7 linked regions of the Homo sapiens genome follow. The protein of the gene in region 1 interacts with the protein of each later gene in a pairwise test. Each region holds a gene or a part of one and is shown in the gene's direction. Other genes may lie near its edges. The genes, in order: POU6F2, SMYD1, STAC, IGFN1, PKN1, PADI4 and FOSB.

Region 1 (3,500 bases):
GAAAGAGAGACAAGACCTCGAGCAAAACAAAGCAAAAAGGCAGCAGAAAACTCACCAATATACTTGCTTCTTTAGTTTATATTTCTAAGTTATTTTGTAAGCTTACCTCATCTCACCTAGCAATTCAAATCACACACAAAAAATACAGTGAAATAATACGTTAGCACAGGAAAACTAGAATTAAAAAACAAAGTCTAAGAAAAGGCCTCACAGTGCTTGTGCTGTACACAAATTTCAATATTAAGGAAAACTTTTCTTTAAATCTTTAGAGTTTTTACAAGAGGTTAGCCAGTGCTCCGATGCTGTGAAATAGTACTTATTATTTCTGGAGTTTAATATGATGTTGACCCTGCATATTTTATGACTTTGATTTTTGATGAATAATTTAAAACTATTTTTAGAAGAAAATATTTATCTCTAACATCTAAAAACTTAGAGAAACAGGTATATTTTTAAAAGAATACATACCTGTTAAATGGTGTTTTTAGCATTGATCAGAACTCAGGCAAATTCCTGTTCAAAAGAACAAAGCACAACATTTATAGGGAGCTTAGTTTTCAGTGCAGAATTCATATACAGATTTTTTTAAAGGAAGTAGGTTTTTGTTGAGAGTAAAAGGTAAATATTGTACCAAGACAGAAGCAAGGATACCAGAAGCCGTAATTGATACTGAGGAAATATGAGAAAAGTAGATATTTCTTAATTCTTCAGTTCTTTTCCTCCAAATTGGAAGGGCAGAATGGGCAAGAATGGAGCTGGACACACAATAGTAGGGACTATGGCACGCCAAACTTGCTTCAGACACAGCTAGTTAATTTTGTAAGTCTTAAATAATACTAGAAAACAAGCCTCTTTCAACCTTTTCTCCAAAAGGTTGAGAGTTAGGACAAATGTAAAATGCTGCTTAATGGGCACAAATAAAACAAGAACATCAAACTCATTTCACTTAGTGTCAGTCCTGATGATTCATCATTATGGTCAGGGCGAACTCTGGTCTTTGGGCCGAAACAATTTTATCCATTAAAAAAAAATCCAGAATGTTCCAGCTTGAATCTTATATCCTTAGGGTTACAATATTGAATTCCGAATCGGGAAACTTAATCTTGCAGCCAGATTTGACAAGATGCTGGTTGAATGGTGGGCAGAAGTGATGATTGTGGGATGAAATGCCCTAGGTCAGAATTTGAGAAAAATAAGAGATTTTGTGAAAGTTTGGCTGTGATATAAGAATGCCAAGTTTGAAAATTTCTCTCTGTTCATATCAGCAGATGGTGTTCCAGGGTCTTAAAAGTAAATCTCTGCTGTATTCATTTTCTCTGTTTCAATATTTCTTGAACAAAGTGAGTCTTTACACATTCTTAGGTGCATTTCTTGGTGTATTTCTAGAACTGCTAATACAAGAGGTGTTTGTAGTAATATTCAGAAGGTTTCTGGGAACGAAGGCTAATATGGCTCAAATCCCAAACAGTCCTACATTGTTCCTAGGTAATATATTAATCCTCAATTCAAGAACTAAAGTTGTGATTTCTTTTCTGAAAACTTTTTTCATTTGTAAACAAACCTATATCTAGATTCCTAGTGACGAAAGAATTTAGAGTAAAAATGAAAATGAGGCAGTCTAGCAATCTAATTCATTAACACACACGCACACTCACAGACATACTTTAAACATTTTGGGAATACTTGACTATTTAACCTCTAATAATCTAAAAATATTTTGTCTCTGTTTTCAATCTTAGTACCTGAAAAAATTATGACAGATGTTTACTTAAAATACTCCTCTCAACTTGGTTGAGAATGGAAAAATACTTTGCAACTTTTTTGTTTTTGTTTTGAGATGAGGTCTTGCCATGTTGCTGAGGCTGGCTGTGAACTCCTGGGCTCAAGAGACGCTCCCACCTCAGCCTCCTGAGTAGTACTTTGCAGCTGTTAAACATCAAGTTTGTGGTAAGAATTCGAGTACATAGTCGATTGGAAAACTGCAAACGTATGAATATTGTGGTTATTTCCTTCCAAAAACAGGGGGGCTCTTTGGTTTGCAATGTACTGCCATTTGTACTAGTGCTGAAACCTATCAACTGCAATTGCTTTCTCCCTTTCTACCTTTATTTATCAAATAGAATTTAAACAGCTAGTTCAGGCAGAGAGTGGAACATCTGAGTAAAAGTGACAGTACATGAACGCAATTCTTATATGCACGTGATTGAAGTGAGTTAATTACATGGTAGACTCCTATGAGTATTTTTGAATTTTTTACTAAAAAATTATAACAGTAATTTCTGCATATGGCAAACCATTGCAATAGCACAGAATAATATAAAGTGGAAAGTAAAGTATCCTGATTCCACTCGCCACAAATAACCACTGTTAACTATTTCTTATATATCCTTCCAGAGATTTTCTGTGCATGTATATGCAATCCTTACACAACCCAAGTAGAACTATACTATACATAGAGTTCTGCAACTTACTTTTACATATAAAAAATATTTTGAACCTCTTCTCATGTGACTATGAATAGATCTGCATCCTTCTCTGTAGTACTCCCTTTTATGGATATACAGTGATTTATTTAACCAGTTCTCTCTTGATCTAGCTTTTAAAAATAAGTTAGTCTCTGCAATCAGTCTAACAAGTAGAGAAGTTTCATTTCTCTTAACATAAAAGATTTCAGAATTTTCCAAATAGGATTTGTTTGAGCAGAAGAACTCATAAATAGTGTCTCCTGAGAGAAGGTTAAGTGTAATGTTAAAAGTGAAGAGTAGCTTTATGCCACAAGAAAAGATACTTATCATCTATATATTGAATACTCAAACCAATTAAAATAGCAATAAAGATCACAATATTTTATTTAGTAACAAAGAGGTAAGAATGACAGAGAATGGCGTAAAGAGCTGGTTCTCAGTCAGACACACTGTGACTTGAAAACCTTTATGTTTGCTCCAAGCCACCAAACTCAACTGAACAAAATGCTTGTTATTTTCTTTCATGAGCCTCAATGCTGTTTATTAAGATAATTGACATAGATGTATGTTTCCAATGCATGATTCAGTTAGTGTATCTAGATTAGTGAAAAAGAGACCAGAAGAAATTCATGGTAATTAATGTCAGTTAAATTTCTGTTTTCTGTATTTCATATTGTCAGACCAATCCTTCAACCCTGATTCATAAGTTAAATAATGCAGTCACAAGCAGGGCTAAATAAAAACATGTAATGAGACTTAGCTCTTGAATTCTACTAATTTAGGGTTCTGAGAAGGTAGACAAAGTGTACATTATTGAAATATTCCAGAGAATGTAAAAAGTTATGTTTTACGTTTCTTTTAGGATATGTCTCTGCTCGTTCTCTTTAATTACGTCACCTCACATATACTAAGAAGACAGTAACGTAGGTGGTAATGAAATCTTATATTTGAATAAAAGATGGGAGTGTGAGCTGACCATGCCATCTTTCCCTACACAGACTTCCAGAATTGAGCCTATGGAACTGTCCATTGGGT
Region 2 (4,128 bases), on another chromosome or scaffold:
AGGAACTAAAAATCTTACATGGAAGTCAAGCCAGAGCTCCAGATCTGCAAGTGTATTTCTTTTAAACCTCAGTAAAAGCTGCCTGATAGCCAAGAACAGTGGCATTTAGTTCAACGGGGATTTTAGATTCGTCTTTCCAGTGTCCTCACTCCTGAGTAAGAAGAAGGACAGAGCACGTTGGTATTTTCCTGGCAGCAGACACATGTTAAAGGAAATTTGATAGAAAGATAGAGATGGGGGTTGCTATTTTTATAGCCTGCCTTGTCTGTATCCAGCCTGCCTCCAGCATACCAGCATCACCAGCAGTGCTAAGAACAGGGAATTCCATGCTGTGGAGTAGGGGGTGCTGTAAGAGCCCCAGGTGATACTGGAGAGGAAAAATGCCCCCTTGGAGCCTAAATAGTACTGTTACGTATATGCCAAGGGCTCAGTTTAGCTTCTTCTTATTATTTATTTATTTATTTATTTATTTATTTATTAATTTTTTGTTGAGACGGGGTCCCACTCTGTCGCCCAGGCTGGAGTGCAATGGCGCGATCTCGGCTCACTGCAACCTCTGCCTCCCAGGTTCAAGCAATTCTCCTGCCTCAGCCTCCTCAGTAGCTGGGATTACAGGCGCCCGCCACCACGCCCAGCTAATTTTTGTATTTTTGGTAGAGACGGGGTTTCACCATGTTGGTCAGGCTGGTCTTGAACTCCTGACCTCAGATGATCCATGTGCCTCGGCCTCCCAAGGTGGGGATTACAGGCGTGAGCCACCGTGCCCAGCCCTCAGTTTAGCTTCTGCTGCTAAACAGTCCACCCTTGGGAGAGAGACTGAAAAGGGTGGGGCGAGGGCCCATCTCACTTGAGAAAGTGCAAGCCTGACAGCTGAAGGGTCCCAGAGCAGCAAATATCACCTTGTTTCTATGGGACCATTCCAGCTGTCTGCTTTTGATTGACAGAGGCATCTGGCTGCTAAAAATACCCTCCTGACCAAATGTTCCCTACTCCAACTAAAGCCGAACAGGATTGTTGCAGTTCAGAACTTAGCACATACAGATAGCTTCTGCTTGCAATGGAACCTCTCAAAACTTTTCAGGCCCTATGCCATATTAACCCATGGTCATTTTCTGTTCTGTCGGCTTTGCTGGGTGATGAATGAAACTCTTCCCAGTTCACTTGTTCTCTTGTCTGTCCCATCCCCACCTCCAGGAAAAGTAGCAGAGGGGGAGGTGAGGGCCCAGTAGCTGAGAGCGAGTAGGGAAGGGGAGGTGGCTTGTCCATTTATAGTCTTGCTCTTTGGGATGCTGAAGGTGCTGAAATAGCAATGACAAGAGACTTGGCTCAGTGTTAAATAACTGCCGCGCTGGCCTGACAGTCTCTGAGATGACAATAGGGAGAATGGAGAACGTGGAGGTCTTCACCGCTGAGGGCAAAGGAAGGGGTCTGAAGGCCACCAAGGAGTTCTGGGCTGCAGATATCATCTTTGCTGAGCGGGCTTATTCCGCAGTGGTTTTTGACAGGTATGAAATGTGGGGAGTTGCCTTCTCTCCTGTTAGTTTGGCTGGGGCCAAACTCTAAAATACTTTGCTCTCAAAAATCATCAGGGGAAGGGATAAAATTCATGTGCTCTTTTTTCAACAAAATGGCACTTCTGAGAGCTAATTTTTCTGGCACAAATTTTTCTGCAAGGGATCATTGCCAGTGTGATTTGCTGTGGCTCCTAGAAGGGTGGTGAAGGTGAGCAAAGGCTTCGGGGGCACTTTCTCCCAATACTGGCCAACTTGGCTGAGAGGGTGTGCTGGGAGTGGAAAGGTGGGTGTGGTGCTGTGGGAAACATTTTCCGACAGAAAGCTCTATATTTTTAGCTTTCTTTTTATTATAAATACATTACCAGATAAAGTAATTGCTGAGACTTTAAAAATTATGAACTATTTGTATATTTATAATTATGAATAACCCAGGAATCCACTTTCCCTTGAAAAATCTGAGTATCACCCAATCCCAGTCCCCTCTGTCTTTCCTCAGATATTACCCCTGCTATTATTTCAATGTATTTCCTTCTAGAATGTTCCTGTGCTATTACATACATATATCTGCACTTAACAAGATGGATGGCTGTAGTCTGTCTGGTTTTTTTTTTTTTTTTACAGAAATGGTGTCATACTTCAGATGTCATTTTAGAACTCACTCTTTTCCCTAAACAACACGTTTTTGATGTCTATCCTTGCAGGAACTTTAAATCTATAGATACTTCTTTTAAATTCCAAAGATCTATTTCCTTTATAGAGCTATCCATATAGATTCATATGCCATATGAATCATCAATCTTAATTTTAAATATTTCATCCTATAAATATATGACATTTTATTTATCCATTCCCCTATTGAGAGACAATTGGTAGTTTTTAATTTTTCATGAAATAAAATGAAAATCCTTGATCGTGTCTACCTGTACATATGTTCGATTGTTCTCCAGGGCACAGGACTAGAAGAGGAATTGCTGGGCCGTAGGATGTGATGTTTTCAGTTTTATAGGCTCTCCAAACAGGCTCTATTAAATTTACATTCCCGCTTCCTCACGACCTTGGCCACACTAGACTACCAAGCTTTTAAATTAGTAATAAATCTTCATTTTAAACAAACCTACATGGTGATTACATTAAATTGTCAATATTTTCTGAGATCAAGGTTGGGGTGACCTGCTTGACATCTATGTGGTTTGAGTCTGATAACCTAGGCTTTGTGGTTGGCTGGCTGCACTGACCACCCTGGGAAAGGGCACTGCTTCCCACAGATAACTTGATTAGTATTCACATTCTCTTGTCTTCCTGCCCACTAAGACCTTCAGGGAAAAGGGTGTGAACTGGGGCATATGGCTCACCACCACTTGAGGAAAATAAGGGGCTGAGGTGACTTTTTCAGGGGGAGCTTGTCTTATTTCATTAATCTGTGTGTGTGTATGTGTATGTGTCAGGGGAGGGGTGAGTACAGTTAGGGAGCCAGCTGGATTCAGAGTGAAAACAACCCAGAAACACAGGGACTGTCAACACTAATTCTGGCGCTGCCAGTGAGTTACTGCCTGGCCTTGTGAAGAACATCTCCATTTGCTGCTTCCAATTCCCCAAAGTCAATCTAGCCAATCAGTTCCATTTCAAGAAGGTTAAAGTTGAATGGGCTTTCATTCCATTATAAAAGCAAGGCATTGTCATTTTAGAAAATTTAGAAAGATAAGACATCACACAGCGATAACCACTCTTAACATGTTGGGTATCTATTTTCGGTTTGTTTTAAAACATAGGTTTCATTTGGCTGTAATATACTCATTATACAAGCTATTATGCTTTTTCATTTAATAATTTTGACATCTTCTGTGCTATTATACACTCTTCAGAGACATAGTACTTAAGGGCTACGTCTTCTTCTATTACCTGCTGATGACTGGCCATTTGGATTGTTTCCATGTTTTTGTTATTATAAATAATTTGTCATTCATTTGAAGTAACAACTATAAAAACACCTTCATATACATTGCAGATAAATGCTACATAAAATCATATATTATTTTTACAATGGTAATAAAAGTGGGATAATTGGTATAAATGACGTTTAAAATGATTGAAAAAAAATCTAAAAGAGATAGTTTTTTTTTCAAAAAATGCTTTACCCAAACTTGTCACTGCATAGATGAGGGAGCTGTGCTTTCTTTGGTTATACCAGAGACAGCCCAAAGAGGCATTAAAGGAAAGTTTTATGCATTTTAGGCTCCTGGTGAGGCTCAGCCACCATAGATGAGAAACTTGATTGCAGAGGTGGGACTGAGTCACCCACAAAAGTCACTGTACAAAACTGGCTTGTTTTAATCCATCTTACTGCAAGACAGGCTTTCCTACTCTTCCACACAAATGTGGAGAAAGATTTTATTTTTAGTTGAGCACTGCATTAAATGAAAATTAATTCTTTCAAACAGTGTGTATTATATATTCTAACATATATATTATATGTTATATTGTATATATTCTAACATATATTATATAAAGCATAGCAATAAATCAACACCAAACCAACTTAACTAGAATATTCCAATATGTTACATCTTCTCTATCCTGTTGCATGCCTGCTCCAAAGGTAATTATCCTAGGTTTT
Region 3 (3,500 bases), on another chromosome or scaffold:
CTTTGGGTCTGTGGATGGCTGTGCTGTACAGTGGGGTATCTTGACTTCATGTCTCATACTACCTGGACATATTCATTCCTGTATCTCCCCTCTAAAGAGACTTACTTTGTTGAAATCCTGTTGTCTCTCCAGGTTGTCATCTTGCATAGCATTCTACATAATCCATATCTGATCCATGAGAATCACATACTTGTTGGACTCACCAACCCTTTTCCTAACAATCTTTTGGAGTGCAGGCCTTGTTCACACAGCTGTCTCCTCAGTAGGCTGACAGGACCCCTGGCCACCCACGTCTCTTATTTTTAGTTTTTTCCAAGAATGGGTATGGCCACAGCCATATGTCCCACAGACTCACATAGGTCAAGCTGTTAAAATAGTCTCCTTGAAACCCTCTCAGGACTGAGGAGACAACAGAGCACACCCCATCCTTCTCATCATGGTAAAGGAGGAGGGATAAGACTGATAGTGCCTCAACAACTCTGCAAAGAAATACTCTCTCCACTACCTCACCTTTCTTCCTCTTTTCTAATACATGAGATGCTTGGTCATCTAAGAGTGGCAAAAATACATTTTGGCACCTTTTTGAGACTTGCCTGGGAACCTACCATCTTACTTTGGGATATCAGAGCAGATGGCATTCTCTTGTCTGTGACTAGATGAAGGCAGAACACACCCATTTTAACATCCGTCTTAAGCTTTATCCAGCCACTTTCTGAAATAATGAACACCGGTGTGCAGCACCTGCCATCTTCCTGAAGCCCCCACACCCTGCCCTCTTATTAGGCCTCCCAGTTCCTCTCCAGTGCTCCTGCCTTGGGCCTTTGTGCATGAAGATACCAGGATGGCTCTCTGCCTTTTCTTCTCAGCCTTCTTTCTTCTCACTCCATGATAGCACCCTGTCCCAAGAAGCTAAGTGACTCACCGCAGCCACAATTTCATTATCATTCGCATCTTCTTCCTCTTTCCCCAGGCTGGGGTTGGCATCTGATTGAGTCCTCTCTCCCCTTCTTTAGAAGACTGTCAGCCCCACTCTCACACAGACCTGCCCTTCCCCCTTAATCAGTCATTTTCCTGAGAATTTATCCAACGGCTCAGTTCCTGTGATAGAAATACAGAAGAAAATACATCAAATTTCGGGACTTGCACTACTCAGTAAGACACAGAAAAGTAGAATTGAGTAACCTACATGAAAAGCAAAGAAAATGGAATTCACTAGCTTGAATTGAGAGAACAAAGGGCATGGAGGAGGCTTAGAGTTCCTGGAGTAGTGAATAGGAAAGATGGAGATAAACCAGAGTGTATACCTTAGGTAGAAAATGCAGGAGAAAGCAAAAGAATCTACCATATATATTTTTTTTCTATTTTGAAAGCTTCATGAAAAAGTTGTAGGAAAGAATTACCTGGGGAACCTCATTTTCTGTGATTTTAGACTAATCAGCAGGAAATGGCAGGTTGTATCCTAACCAAAGTTTGCCATGTACCTGACAGGAACAAATGCTAAGCATGGACTGCGCTGCAAAGCCTGTAAGATGAGCATCCACCACAAGTGCACAGATGGCCTGGCACCCCAGCGGTGCATGGGCAAGCTGGTAAGGGCTTGTGCCAGGAGTGAGGCCCACACCTCTCTGCTAGGGCACTTGCCTGCTGCAGTGAGATCACCCCCTCCAAAATCCTTCCCTGAAACCCTGAGCAAAGCACCCCAGAACTGGCTGCCAGCTTGGCTTCCTAATTGGCGTAATCAGAAAACAAGGACAAGGGCTTTGTCAACCCAATCAACAATGCCCCACCTTGAAAGGGAGTCAGGGTCATTAACAGAGTGACCAACTTCTCCCAGGTTGGCACTTTCTCAGTTTTAATACTGAAAGTCCCACATCCTGGGTCTGTTCAGGTTTTAAAAGTGAAAGTCATGCATCTCAGGAACCCCCTAAGTCCCAGGCAAACTAATGGTTGGTCACTCTAGTGCTTCCTTGGTGGTCAGCTCAGTGGGTAGCAAGAGAGGACAAGAGCTAAGCCCCCACAAAAGAGGAGAGAGTAATAAATATCTGCACCACTTTAACAGAATCTCCCAAACCAAGGGAGATTGAATGGCCCTTGAGATGGCTGATCATACCATCTCAGGAGGATGGGCTTCAGTCCTGGTGCCACATATTGATTAAGAGGCAATTCAAGCCAGGCACAATGGCTCACGCCTATAATCCCAACACTTTGGACACCAAGGTGGGTTGATCCCTTAAGCCCAGGAGTTCGAGACCAGCCTGGGCAACATGGCATGACCCTGTCTCTACAAAAATTTAAAAATTAGCTGAGTGTGGTGGTGTGTGCCTGTAGTTCCAGCTACTCAGGAGGCTGAGATTAGAGGATCGCTTGAGCCCAGAAGGCAGAGGTTTCAGTAAGCCATTATTGCGCAACTGTACTCTAGCTTGGGTGACAGTGAGAACCTGTCTCAAAAATTTTTTTTCAAAAAGCAATCCAGAGCGCATTTGAGGGTGTTTGAAACTAGGATGGCCAAAGAATTGTAGAAAGGACGAAGAATGTCTACCCTAGAGAATAATTAGACAGGACATCAACAGCTGTCTTCAACAATTTTAGACCTAAAATTTAGAAGAGTAACTCCATTGTCCTTTGAGGCTCCTGGGGAAAGACCTAAGATCAGTGGATACTAAGTCTTAACAATAAAAGATAATGTCTTGCTTCCAGGGTTAGTGAATGCTCCTTCACCCCCTCCCATCACTGACAGTGTAACGACAAGGGACACCACTTTCCAGGAACATTAGACAGGATTCTGGAATTCTAGAAGGGACTGGGCCACCAAGTTCCCATCCAGTAATGGAGTACAGTCAAGTCCAGGTTCTTAGTTTATCTATTTACTCTGATTTGCAATGTCTCTTTTCTCAAACCTCTGCCTCCCCTGCTTCCCCTTCTCCTTCTCCAGTGGTGATTCCCATAAGCCAAGACAGACCATGAAGGAGAGGTCAGAAAAACAGAGAATAGAATCCAGATTACAGAGCAAATGATTCTGGCTAAAGCTCTTCAGATATACAGGAGCTTTTAGGCCTCCCTCTGAGGTCCACTTACCCATGCCCAGGCCTTTTATTTATATTATTTTAACAAACCACAATAACAAACTGTGGTGAAATAATATGTGGCAGTCCACTTGTAATCCAGGAGGCAATGAGGATCTGGGATGCAAAGGAGGCTGCAGTGCACTGCAGGAGGAGGACAGACACGACTGGGGAGGCCAGGGCCAGGACCTTGTTTTCTGGATAGAGTGTAACTTGCTAGTTGCCACTATTCCTCCCTGCCTCTGTGTCCCTGCTGGGATTAAATTGTGGAATTATAGGATAAGTCGGCATGTTAATGGGAGACAGGAGGGTGCTCCTGGAGAAACCAATTGGTTTTATTTAGGGAGCTCTTGTATGGTTTTCTCCATCTCCAGTGACATTAACCCCTTGCCTTCCTCATTCTCTCTCCAGCCAAAGGGGTTTCGGCGTTACTACAGC
Region 4 (3,500 bases), on another chromosome or scaffold:
TTTTCCCTGAGTTTGTCTCATCAGTGCACAGGGCAGAGACCCACAGAGGAATCAGATGCCCCGTGGCTAGTGAGGGAGGGGAGGGGAGGGAAGGGAGGCCCATCCAGGCTGCTGCCGCTGCTGCAGCCCCACCTTGTGCTGGGCCCCGGGCTTCATCCACATGCACACTGAGTCTGCATGTGTTTAAAAAGGCACACCTTGGCAGATACTCTGAAGGATATTCTCTTGGCCCAGTAAATGAGCAGGACCTGAAAGCTGGCTTCTAGTCCTAGAGCTTCTGCTAACTCATTCAATGGGCTTCGTTTTCCTCTCTGGGTCTCAGTTTCTCCACCATGCAAAGGATATTTTGGACAGGCCTATGCCAGAGTTGACAAACAGGTCACACAAAGGCCAAATTCTCTCTCAGACATGTTTTTTTTGGTGTGCGTGGTGTTTGAAATTTTAAAAATTGTCAACCTGTAGTAATTAAAAGGTAGATATCTCTTGAGGAAGCAGGTCTAGTCTCGCCATTGGTTATGCTTACAATTGATCTGCCTGCAACTAACAGAAAATCCTACTAAGAGCAGCCTAAGAAATAACGATATTTCATTCCTTCACATAAGAAGTTTTGCGAGTGGCGTCCAGGGCTCATACCACAGCTCAGGGCTGCCATCGGAGAGCTGATTCCTTCGTTCCCACTGCTCTGCCATCCTTAGCAGATTGGCTTATCACCTCATGGCCATAAGAGGGCTGTGGCAGATTCAAACATAATCCATGTTCAAGGTAGGAAGGTGGAAGAGGTGGCCCAGGTCCATCTGCCTCTCTTATTTTTATTTTTATATTTTTGAGATGGACTGGAGTCTTGCTCCATCGCGTAGGCTGGAGTACAGTGGCACAATCTCACCTCACTGCAACATCTGCCTCCCGGGTTCAAGCAATTCTCCTGCCTCAGCCTCCTGAGTAGCTGGGATTACACGCGTTTACCACCATGCCTGGCTAATTTTTGTATTTTTAGTTGAGACAGGGTTTCACCACGTTGGCCAGGCTGGTCTCGAACTCCTGACCTCAGGTGATCCACCTGCCTCGGCCTCCCAAAGTGCTGGGATTACAGGCATGAGCCACTGTGCTTGGCCTTTTATTTTCTATTTTTTGAGACCTGTTGCCCAGGCTGGAGTGCAGTGGTGTGATTATGGCTCACTGCAGCCTTGACCTCCCAGGCCCAAGTGATCCTCCCACCTCAGCCTCCCAAGTAGCTGGGACTACATGCATGTGTCATCACACCCAGCTAATTTTTTTATTTTTTTTGTAGAGGCGGGGTCTCCCTGTGTTGCCCAGGCTGGTCTGGAACTCCTGGGCTCAAGCTATCCTCCCCCCTCGGCCTCCCAAAATGCTGGGATTACAGGCATGAACCATCACGACCAGTCCATCCACCCTTTTTATAGAGGAAGCAAAGGCTTTCTCAGAAATTCCTGGAGCTCATTGGTCAGGACAGTGTCACATGAGCACTGCTAGTTGCAAGGGAAGCTGGGGAAGGTGAGTGTTTAGCTTTTTCAGCCTCTCTAGTGGAAGCAGATGATGAAGAATACAAATGGCTGCAGGATTAGCCAAACAGCAATGTCTGACCTATTTGGCAATATTGGGCCTATACCCTGAAATGGCAGCTCCCAGGTGGAGTGAAAGAGCAGCTGCCCCTTTAGATACTCTTGAGTTTGTTGTGGTTGCCAGTGTCTGCTTCACGCATTTATGCCACCTCCCTGGCCCCTGCGGACACATGACTGGGCCTCCCCTGCATGAGATGATGCTTAGGTTGGTCCCCTTGGTCATGGTAAGGCTCTAGGGTAAAAAGGCTTATGATGGACAGACCCTCCACCCTGCTCCATCCCTCTTGCTGGGATCGTCCACGCCTTAGAGGACAGTGGGGAGAGCAGGGCTCTGGGACTCCATCAGTTTCTCAGGAAGACCATCAACATGTCTTGCTTCTCTCCCTGCTTGTCCACATCGACTCCTTCCTCTCCTCCCTGGATGTTGCAGTTGGCTTTCGGAAGAATCGGAAGAGGCACAGGGAACCGCAGGAAGGTAGGCAGATTTGTCAGAAACCTCCTTGGGGGCCTGTGGGGGATAGGCTACTCCTTTCCTGGTGTTCCCTGCCTGGTTGAGCTACCATGAACACCTTGTGGATCACCACCAGTCTTCAAGAGAGCCCCTTCCAAAGGCTCAGTTGTCAGCATGGACAACACAGAAAAGCTCTGCATCAACCCTCAGTCATCCCACCTGGGACTGAGGCCTCATTCCTGCTCCTTTTTCAGACCTCAGGAAGGAGCTGATGGACTTCCGGAAGTTGCTGAAAAAGAGGTGGGTTTGGGCCTGTCCATGAGGGATTTTGGAGGCTCCCATAGTATTCACCCCCTGCTATTTCCATAAGTAAGCTGGGCTTGAGCCCCACCTCTACCCAACACAGCAGGGAGCTAGACTGCCAGTAGCAGATGGGAGGATGGGAAGGGGACTGAACTGGATGGGAATGGGACAGAGCTCCAGCTCTGCCATTTCAAAGCTCTATATCCTTGAGTTAATCATCTCTCCTCTGATTTCCTCATTTGCAAAATGTGGTGGTCCACCAGAACAATGATGTACTTTTTTTTTTTAAGCAACAGAACAATGCAACACCCACTTTCCCCAGACATCCTACTTAGAAATCTACAATACAAGTTGTCAGGAGCATTTCTCCTGAAAGTTGTGGGGTGAGGCTGAGGCTCGCCCCACCCATCTCTGAATCCTTCTGGCCTCAACAGTGGTCAGTCCCAGAGATTCCAGGCTCTGCGTTTCCTCGAGTGCAGATAGAGCAGCTTCCCAGAACTACTTGGGACACCAGAGCCAGGTGGCCAACAGAGGAGCAGGGATTCCTCTGGCCTCTGACCTGCTAGCCTTGCTCCCCAGGGCCCCACCAGCCCCCAAGAAAAAGATGGACCTTGAGCAGATATGGCAGCTGCTGATGACAGCAGACAGGAAGGACTACGAGAAGATCTGCTTGAAGTATGGCATCGTCGACTACCGTGGCATGTTGCGCAGGCTGCAGGAGATGAAGAAGGAACAGGAGGACAAGATGGCACAGGTGCCTCACCCCATTCCCACCCCTCACTCCATGCCCACCCCACACACCTGGACCATAGGTGCCTCACACCTGGAGGTGGGCTTGGAGGCAGAACTTAGGAAACCAAGTATGATCAAGGGGCCTGTCTCCATCTAGTCCCCAGTGGGGTATCTGGCTAAGGCCCTGGGATCCCAGGTTGGTGTCCTGCCTTTGCAACCTGGTTCTGATACTTACTAAACTCTGGAGCTTTGGAAGGGTTAGGGCCTCTGTATCTTGGTGTCTTCATCTGTAAAATGGGAATTATAGTCATGCCTACCTTGTAGGGTTATTGGGAGGATAAATGAGAGAATGTAATTAAAGTACTTAGCTTAGTGCCTTGATTTTTGCTATCATTATCATTGTCACCAGATTGCGGGGGGGAGGTACCTGGTTT
Region 5 (3,500 bases), on another chromosome or scaffold:
CTATATATTATCTATCAACCAATCTATTTTTCCATGCATCCGTCTCTATTATCTGTCAGTCATCTTATCCATCAATCTTATGTATGCATCATCCATCCATCTATCCATCCCTGTATATTTCTCTGTATATATATCTACCCATTCCTCTCTCTATCTCTATCTATCCCTCTCTATATCTATCTGTGCCTCTGTTTTTCTCTATATAGCTATATCTATCTATCCATCCATCTATATTATCTATCAACTAATCTATCTTTCCGTCTACCCATCTGTCTATATTATCTATCCATCTATATTATCTATCTATCATCTTATCCATCCATCCATTTATCTTATCTATGCTCATCCCTCCATCCATCCATCTCTGTATATTCCTCTATCTCTATTTATATCCACCCATTCCTGTCTCTGTCTCTATCTATCCCTCTCTGTATCTATCTGTGTCTCTCTCTCTTTTTCTCTCGATAGCTGTATCTATCTATCCATCCATCTATCCATGCATCCTTCTCTTTCTATGAATCCCTTTCTCTATCAGTCCCTCTCTCTTTCTCTATCTGTAACTACCCTTCCGTCCATGCCCCTCTCTATCTACCTGCGTCTATATCTGTCTCTTTCTGTGTCTATTTATCCATCTCTCTATATCCATATCCCTAAGCAGAGGTTCTCCCCTGGTCTGACCATCAAGCACCAGTGAAAGAAAGGGGCGGGGCCAGGCACAGTGGCTCACACCTGTAATCCCAGCACTTTGGGAGGCTGAGGCGGGCAGATCACTAAGTCAGGAGTTCGAGACTAGCCTGGTCAACATGGTGAAACCCCGTCTCTACTGAAAATAGAAAAATTAGCCGGGTGTGGTAGCAGGCGCCTGTAATCCCAGCTACGCGGGAGGCTGAGGCAGGAGAATCAGTTGAACCTGGGAGATGAAGGTTGCAGTGAGCCGAGATCGCATCATTGCACTCCAGCCTGGGCAACAACAGCGAAACTCTGTCTCAAAAAAAAAAAAAAGAAAGAAAGAAAGGGGCGTGGAGAAGAGCTGACTCCAGATGGCAGAGGTTTAAAATTGTTCTCCCATTCAGAACACAGCCCAAACCAAATGGAAAGTGATGGTGGGTGGCCTGGGGGACACATTCTAAAGCGTTTCTCCTTGCCTTCAAGGTCTCTCTGTGGCATTCTATTTTGTTTTTATGCCTATACAGAAGCATTCTTCCATAGAACTTTTCTGCAGCTCTGGCCGGGCGCTGTGGCTCACGCCTGTAATCCCAATACTTCGGGAGGCTGAGGCGGATGGATCATTTGAGGTCAGGAGTTTGAGACCAGCCTGGCCAACATGGTGAAACCCTGTCTTTACTAAAAATACAAAAATTCGGCTGGGTGCGGTGGCTCACGCCTGTCATCCCAGCACTTTGGGAGGGTAGGCAGGCAGATCACCTGAGGTCAGGAGTTCAAGACCAGCCTGGCCAACGTGGAAAAACCTAGTCTCTACTAAAAATACAAAAATCAGCCAGGTGTGGTGGCGCACGCCTGTAATCCCAGTTACTTGGGAGGCTGAGGCAGGAGAATCACTTGAACCTGGGAGGCGGAGGTTGTAGTGAGCCAAGATCGCACCACTGTACTCCAGCCTGGGCAACAGAGTGAGACTGTGTCTCAAAAAAAAAAAAAAAGAAATTAGCCGGGCTTGGTGGTGGGTGCCTGTAATCCCAGCTGCTCGGGAGACTGAGGCAGGAGAATCTCTAGAGCCTGGGAGGTGGAGGTTGTGGTGAGCCCAGATTGCGCCACTGCACTCCAGCCTGGGCAACAGAGTCTCAAAGAAAAAAGGAACTTTCTGCAGCTCTGTTGTCGATGCACCCACAGTAGCTGAGTTCTGTTGTAGATGGAAATGTTCTCTATCTGAAGTGTGACCAGTGTGACCAGGGAACCAAAGTTTTAATTTCGCTGACATTTTCACTAATTTAAATCGCCACATGTGACAACCATACCAGACACTGCAGTTCTGTGACTTCAGCACCTTCTAGAAGTTGTATTGGAGTTGGGAGAATTCAACTTGACAGGTGGCTTCCATAGATGGGTGGGCACCAGCATTGCCTGGGGGCTTGTTGAAATACTGAGTGCTTTAGGGCCGGGCACGGTGGCTCGCGCCTGTAATCCCAGCACTTTGGGAGGCCAAAGTGGGCAGATCGCTTGAGCCCAGGAGTTCAGGACCAGCCTGGCCAACATGGTGAAACTCCGTCTCTACAAAAATACAACAATTTGCCAGGCATGGGGGTGCGTGCCTGTAGTCCCAGCTACTCAGGAGGCTGAGGTGGGAGGATCTCTTGAGCCCGGGAGGTGGAGGCTGCAGTGAGCCGAGATCGGACTACTCATATGTGCATATATATATGTGTGTATATATATATATGTGTGTGTGTATATATATATATATATAGAGAGAGAGAGAGAGCATGCGCGCGCTTCCTCCACTCCATGTTTCTGGCTCAGTAGGTCAAACCTGCGTTTCTAGAAAGTTCCCAGGTGTTGCTGCTACTGCAGGTCTGGGGTCTGGGAGCACATGTGGGGAATGGGGTGTGGGATGGCGTGGCGTCCGTTTGCAGTCGCTGTCTGTCAGTCTTGTTGGGTCAGATGCTCTCCCCACCTCTAGAAAGGGACCCGGTTGTTTGCTTCTTGCTTTTCCAAGACGTCCCTTCAGGAGGGGAGCCATGGGTTGCACCGATGACCTCTTCATTGTCACCTGGTACTCGGGTTGAATCTGATGCCACGTGACCAGAACCCCACTTGGGCGCGCACACCTGTGCTCCCAGGGGCTTCCTTACCAAGCTGTCTGCCTGCAGGTGGGCAGAGGGTCCTCACATTTTGGTCCCTTCCCCCAGGTCACCTTCCGCAACCCTGTCATTGAGAGGATTCCTCGGCTCCGACGGCAGAAGAAAATTTTCTCCAAGCAGCAAGGTGAGAGGGTGCTCCAGGCTTCCTGGGGGAGAGGCCAGGGGTCCTGGGAGTGTCATGGAGGGTGACGCCTGCCCCGTCCCCCCAGGGAAGGCGTTCCAGCGTGCTAGGCAGATGAACATCGATGTCGCCACGTGGGTGCGGCTGCTCCGGAGGCTCATCCCCAATGCCACGGGCACAGGCACCTTTAGCCCTGGGGCTTCTCCAGGATCCGAGGCCCGGACCACGGGGTAAGGAAGGAGGGCCCCATGGTCCCGGCTGCCCCTTGAAGCCTGCGAGGGTCCTGGGTCCCAGACACACCCTCCTCTCGTCTGCTGCAGTGACATATCGGTGGAGAAGCTGAACCTCGGCACTGACTCGGACAGCTCACCTCAGAAGAGCTCGCGGGATCCTCCTTCCAGCCCATCGAGCCTGGTGAGGGTCCCCCCTTCTATCCCCGTAGGCCTGGCCTGGGCAGCGTCAGGGGTCCTGCTCCAGGCTCAGAGACCACTAGGAACTTCCCTGGAGCCACGCAGCATGTCTGTGGCAGAACCAGGGCCCAGATCTCTATGCTGGTTAAAACGTGT
Region 6 (2,154 bases), on another chromosome or scaffold:
AGGAGAATCACTTGAACCTGGGAGACGGAGGTTGCAGTGAGCCAAGATCATGCTATTGCACTCCAGCCTGGGTAACAGAGTGAGACTTTGTCTCGGGAAAAAAAAAAAAAAAGACAGTCATCTTGAGCTAGTGAAGACCTGCTCTTTTTATAGCCAGAGTCCTCTGGTGAGGACTGATAGTAATAGAGTATGCCTGCTTATGTCCCTATCTGGTTGGGTGCAGTCTCTGTTGATTAGGCAAACATCTGGTTCCTGTTAGCATGGTGCCTTTTGAAATGTAAGATGGAGTCTTTTTCTAAGATGGAGTCACTTATGCCAAGGGTGCTCTATACAGGCTTGCATGGCCCTGTACCACTTCCAGAGCACCTTCTGGTATCTCACAACAATTCCAGAAGTCAGAGTCTATCGTCGCTTCTGCCAGGGCTCTGGCTTCAAACCCCATGCCGTAACTACCATGCTGCCTTCCCACGTAGCACCTTCCCTGGGGCTCCGGGGTGATGCAGGGGATGGAGGGATGGATAGGGAATCAACCAACAAACACGACACCCTCAAGTCACCTTATGCACCATAACAGGGACACACGTGGGGGCACCACCTCAGACTGGAGGGTCCGGGAAGGCCTCTGTGAGGAGGTGGGGCTGGCACTGCCTAGGCTGAGTGGGATTCACCTTCTGGAGGCTGCACTTGTGGGTGGTCCCACCTTTGTCTTGAGCGTTCACCGTGGCCCCTAAGTGCTGTCTTGATATCATCCATTGTGTTTTTGCCATTCCTTGGCCCCATTCCTCCCTCTCTTCAGAGCATACCCGAGACCGAGGCAGAGACTTCACCCGGTCCTACTGGGGAACCCCAGCCACCCCCTTCTTCTGGAGCTGGGGGTTACAGTTCAGGGAGGAGCCAGCAGGCCCTACCACCGTGGTTTTCAAACTGGGTTCCCACTCAGCCTAGGCAGTGCCAGCCCCACCTGGGGCTCCGGGGTGGTGCCTCAAATCCAGTGGTTCAGATTTTCTGTTTCTGCATTGACATTCTGCAAAAGATTGTGTGTAGAATAAAGGGTTCCTTGGCCAAAAGGAATTAAAGTATTGACCCCAAGCGTTTTGTTTCCCTCCAGTTTGGCCAAGCCAGGCTTCCCAGTGCGGGAATGAAAGTGGACGCCCGCGGCTATGGTAGTCAGCAACGCTGAGGGCTGACTGTGTGCCTTCACTGTTCAAGGTCCCCAGAGGGAGTCTGAGCATGAGACCAGACTCTCTCCCAGGAGCTGGCTGTGGGAGGCGGGGAAGAGGGAGTGATGAACAGTACGAGGCACTTAGCACGCATGGGCTGTGTCTAGGCGGTGGCCCCCTTGAGGACTCATGACCCATGGAAAATGGCTGTGCATCTACTGTGTGCCAGCACAGTGCTGTGCCTACATGTTCTTACCTAATTGTCATTGCAACGGAGATATGTGTTGGGCTCATTTTGCTGATGAGGCTCAGAGGGGTGATATGACTTGCCTAAGGCCACACAGCTATTGAATAGCAGAGTTAGGATTCAAACCCACATAGGCCTACAGCCAAAATCCCACCTTCCCACCTCACCAGGCCACCTGCCAATCTAATGGAGGAAGCAGAGTCATTTACATACATTATTTACATATGGAAAGTGCCATAACAGAGGCAGTCATTTATCTGTCTAGTCAACAGATGTTTATTGAGTGCCTACGACGTGCAAGGCGCAGTGCTGGGAGTTATGGGAACACAGAGCAGGAGTGACTGCCAGAGCTCAGGGATTCATGGGCAGTTTCACAGAGGGGCTGCCATCTGAGCTGGGCCCTGAGTAATAGAAAGAGTTTACCAGAAGGTGACAGGTAGGGGAGGAGAACGTAGTGTTAAGAGCATGGGCAGCATCAGAAAGAACGAAATCAGCCAGGAGGGGTGGCTCATACCTGTAATCCCAGCACTTTGGGAGGCTTAGGTGGGAGGATTGCTTGAGTCCAGGAGTTCAAGACCAGCCTGAGCAACATGGAGAAACTCTGTCTCTACAAAAAACACAAAAATTAGCCAGGCGTGGTGGCATCTGCTGAGGCAGGATGATTGCTTGAGCCCAGGAGGTGGACACTGCAGTGAGCTGAGATGGCACCACTGAACTCTAGCCTGGGTGAAGAGTAAGACCCTGTCT
Region 7 (2,342 bases), on another chromosome or scaffold:
GAGGCAGGAAGTTTCTTATGAATGGAGGGGGGCTCCACTAAGGCCTCAGTGTTACAGAAACCCCAAGATCCTTGCTACACGAGCGAGGACCGGAGGCTTGTTTTTTGGCTCTTGGGGGTTCTGAAAGAAGTAGAGGTTCGGGATGGGTGGAGGAGTGCTGTATCCCCAAATCTCATGGCCTCTATCTCCCTGACTCAGCTCACCCCAGAGGAAGAGGAGAAGCGAAGGGTGCGCCGGGAACGAAATAAACTAGCAGCAGCTAAATGCAGGAACCGGCGGAGGGAGCTGACCGACCGACTCCAGGCGGTGAGGACAGGCCCTGGGGTGGGAGAGGGGATGTTGAGGGGAGCTCTCTCCCCATTCTCTGCCCCCTCTCCACCTGTACCCTTATCCTGGGTTGAGAACTAGACGTTCCACACATGGAACTAGGTACTGCTGTGGCCAGACTGGGTAGCCCAGGGCACAAACACAGACCCCCATGGACTTAAGTCAACTCCTGGTCCCCCCCCCATTTCCTGACCCCACGGACTACTCTCCTAGCCTTCATTTCATCCCAAGGGGCCACATGGGGCCCTTGAGGAGAGGGGCGCCCCCATCATTTCTCCCATCTGGTCTTCAGCAAGTAACAACCCATTTTGCCTCAGTTTCTCCATCTCTGCAAACCCTCATCAAATCTCCCGGGCTCTTTCTACCCTTAACACTCTGGAAAGCCTGTGAAATGAAATTATTCCACCTCCTGCCCTAGCCACCCACAGCTCTCCTGGTGCTGGTGGCATCCCCCAAAACCCACTCCCTTCCTACGTCCTCCCTTGGTCTGAGAGTTCCCTGCTGTATGCCTGCAGGGTGAGCTGTTACTCCTTGAGGGAACAAGGGAATTGTCAACTTTCCTTCTCTACTTTTTCTCTTCCCCGGGAGGTAGAGAGGGAGGGGTAATAGAAGGGAACACATTAAAAACACATAACAGTGGCTCATGCCTGTGATCCCAGCACTTTGAGAGGCCAAGGCAGGAGGATTGCTTGAGCCCAGGAGTTTGAGACCAGCCTGGGAAACATAGGGAGGACTTGTCTCTACCAAGAAAAAAAAAAATTAGTTGGGCATGGTGGTGCACACCACTGTGGTCCCAGCTACTATGGAGGCTTTAGTGGGAGGATCGCTTGAGCCGAGGAGGTCCAGGCTGCAGTGAGCCATGATTGCACTATTGCACTCCAGCCTGGGGGACAGAGCGAGACTCTGGCTCAAAAGCAAAACAAAACCAACCACATAACGATTGTTCATTCATTCAACAAACCTCCTGCACACCAGAAACTTCCCCATAAACCTGGCCCCTTCTGTACCATCCTTTGGACAGATGGGGGAAACTGAGGTTCCTGGAAGGCAAGACCCTTGCCCCAACTCCCATGGCCACCAGGACTCCATCTCAGGAGGTGTTTTTTCTCAGCCCGGGGCTGCCTTCCAGCAGCAAGTCCAAGGGAGCCATGACCCGAGTTTCCCGGTCACTGACATGCTTTTTTCTCCTTCCTCTCTCTCTTCTGTGACCTGGCCTCCCTGGCCTCAGGAGACAGATCAGTTGGAGGAAGAAAAAGCAGAGCTGGAGTCGGAGATCGCCGAGCTCCAAAAGGAGAAGGAACGTCTGGAGTTTGTGCTGGTGGCCCACAAACCGGGCTGCAAGATCCCCTACGAAGAGGGGCCCGGGCCGGGCCCGCTGGCGGAGGTGAGAGATTTGCCGGGCTCAGCACCGGCTAAGGAAGATGGCTTCAGCTGGCTGCTGCCGCCCCCGCCACCACCGCCCCTGCCCTTCCAGACCAGCCAAGACGCACCCCCCAACCTGACGGCTTCTCTCTTTACACACAGTGAAGTTCAAGTCCTCGGCGACCCCTTCCCCGTTGTTAACCCTTCGTACACTTCTTCGTTTGTCCTCACCTGCCCGGAGGTCTCCGCGTTCGCCGGCGCCCAACGCACCAGCGGCAGTGACCAGCCTTCCGATCCCCTGAACTCGCCCTCCCTCCTCGCTCTGTGAACTCTTTAGACACACAAAACAAACAAACACATGGGGGAGAGAGACTTGGAAGAGGAGGAGGAGGAGGAGAAGGAGGAGAGAGAGGGGAAGAGACAAAGTGGGTGTGTGGCCTCCCTGGCTCCTCCGTCTGACCCTCTGCGGCCACTGCGCCACTGCCATCGGACAGGAGGATTCCTTGTGTTTTGTCCTGCCTCTTGTTTCTGTGCCCCGGCGAGGCCGGAGAGCTGGTGACTTTGGGGACAGGGGGTGGGAAGGGGATGGACACCCCCAGCTGACTGTTGGCTCTCTGACGTCAACCCAAGCTCTGGGGATGGGTGGGGAGGGG

The links.
Region 2: the proteins of POU6F2 (region 1) and SMYD1 interact in binary tests that used the Homo sapiens proteins (3 or more experiments, as listed by UniProt).
Region 3: the proteins of POU6F2 (region 1) and STAC interact in binary tests that used the Homo sapiens proteins (3 or more experiments, as listed by UniProt).
Region 4: the proteins of POU6F2 (region 1) and IGFN1 interact in binary tests that used the Homo sapiens proteins (3 or more experiments, as listed by UniProt).
Region 5: the proteins of POU6F2 (region 1) and PKN1 interact in binary tests that used the Homo sapiens proteins (3 or more experiments, as listed by UniProt).
Region 6: the proteins of POU6F2 (region 1) and PADI4 interact in binary tests that used the Homo sapiens proteins (3 or more experiments, as listed by UniProt).
Region 7: the proteins of POU6F2 (region 1) and FOSB interact in binary tests that used the Homo sapiens proteins (3 or more experiments, as listed by UniProt).

Annotation. Positions count from the first base shown.
Region 1 is NC_000007.14:38,984,409-38,987,908, forward strand, and holds part of POU6F2 (POU domain, class 6, transcription factor 2), read left to right. Parts: intron 1-468; exon of another isoform or gene 469-513; intron 514-3,500. UniProt on the Homo sapiens protein: Probable transcription factor likely to be involved in early steps in the differentiation of amacrine and ganglion cells. Recognizes and binds to the DNA sequence 5'-ATGCAAAT-3'. Isoform 1 does not bind DNA.
Region 2 is NC_000002.12:88,066,497-88,070,624, forward strand, and holds the start of SMYD1 (histone-lysine N-methyltransferase SMYD1), read left to right. Parts: upstream 1-1,328; 5' UTR 1,329-1,368; coding exon 1,369-1,505; intron 1,506-4,128. UniProt on the Homo sapiens protein: Methylates histone H3 at 'Lys-4' (H3K4me), seems able to perform both mono-, di-, and trimethylation. Acts as a transcriptional repressor. Essential for cardiomyocyte differentiation and cardiac morphogenesis.
Region 3 is NC_000003.12:36,481,504-36,485,003, forward strand, and holds part of STAC (SH3 and cysteine-rich domain-containing protein), read left to right. Parts: intron 1-1,488; coding exon 1,489-1,589; intron 1,590-3,473; coding exon 3,474-3,500. UniProt on the Homo sapiens protein: Promotes expression of the ion channel CACNA1H at the cell membrane, and thereby contributes to the regulation of channel activity.
Region 4 is NC_000001.11:201,197,324-201,200,823, forward strand, and holds part of IGFN1 (immunoglobulin-like and fibronectin type III domain-containing protein 1), read left to right. Parts: intron 1-2,010; coding exon 2,011-2,055; intron 2,056-2,285; coding exon 2,286-2,331; intron 2,332-2,913; coding exon 2,914-3,088; intron 3,089-3,500.
Region 5 is NC_000019.10:14,460,806-14,464,305, forward strand, and holds part of PKN1 (serine/threonine-protein kinase N1), read left to right. Parts: intron 1-2,861; coding exon 2,862-2,937; intron 2,938-3,022; coding exon 3,023-3,164; intron 3,165-3,254; coding exon 3,255-3,348; intron 3,349-3,500. UniProt on the Homo sapiens protein: PKC-related serine/threonine-protein kinase involved in various processes such as regulation of the intermediate filaments of the actin cytoskeleton, cell migration, tumor cell invasion and transcription regulation.
Region 6 is NC_000001.11:17,360,197-17,362,350, forward strand, and holds part of PADI4 (protein-arginine deiminase type-4), read left to right. Parts: intron 1-2,154. UniProt on the Homo sapiens protein: Catalyzes the citrullination/deimination of arginine residues of proteins such as histones, thereby playing a key role in histone code and regulation of stem cell maintenance.
Region 7 is NC_000019.10:45,470,996-45,473,337, forward strand, and holds part of FOSB (protein FosB), read left to right. Parts: intron 1-198; coding exon 199-306; intron 307-1,555; coding exon 1,556-2,017; 3' UTR 2,018-2,342. UniProt on the Homo sapiens protein: Heterodimerizes with proteins of the JUN family to form an AP-1 transcription factor complex, thereby enhancing their DNA binding activity to gene promoters containing an AP-1 consensus sequence 5'-TGA[GC]TCA-3' and enhancing their transcriptional activity.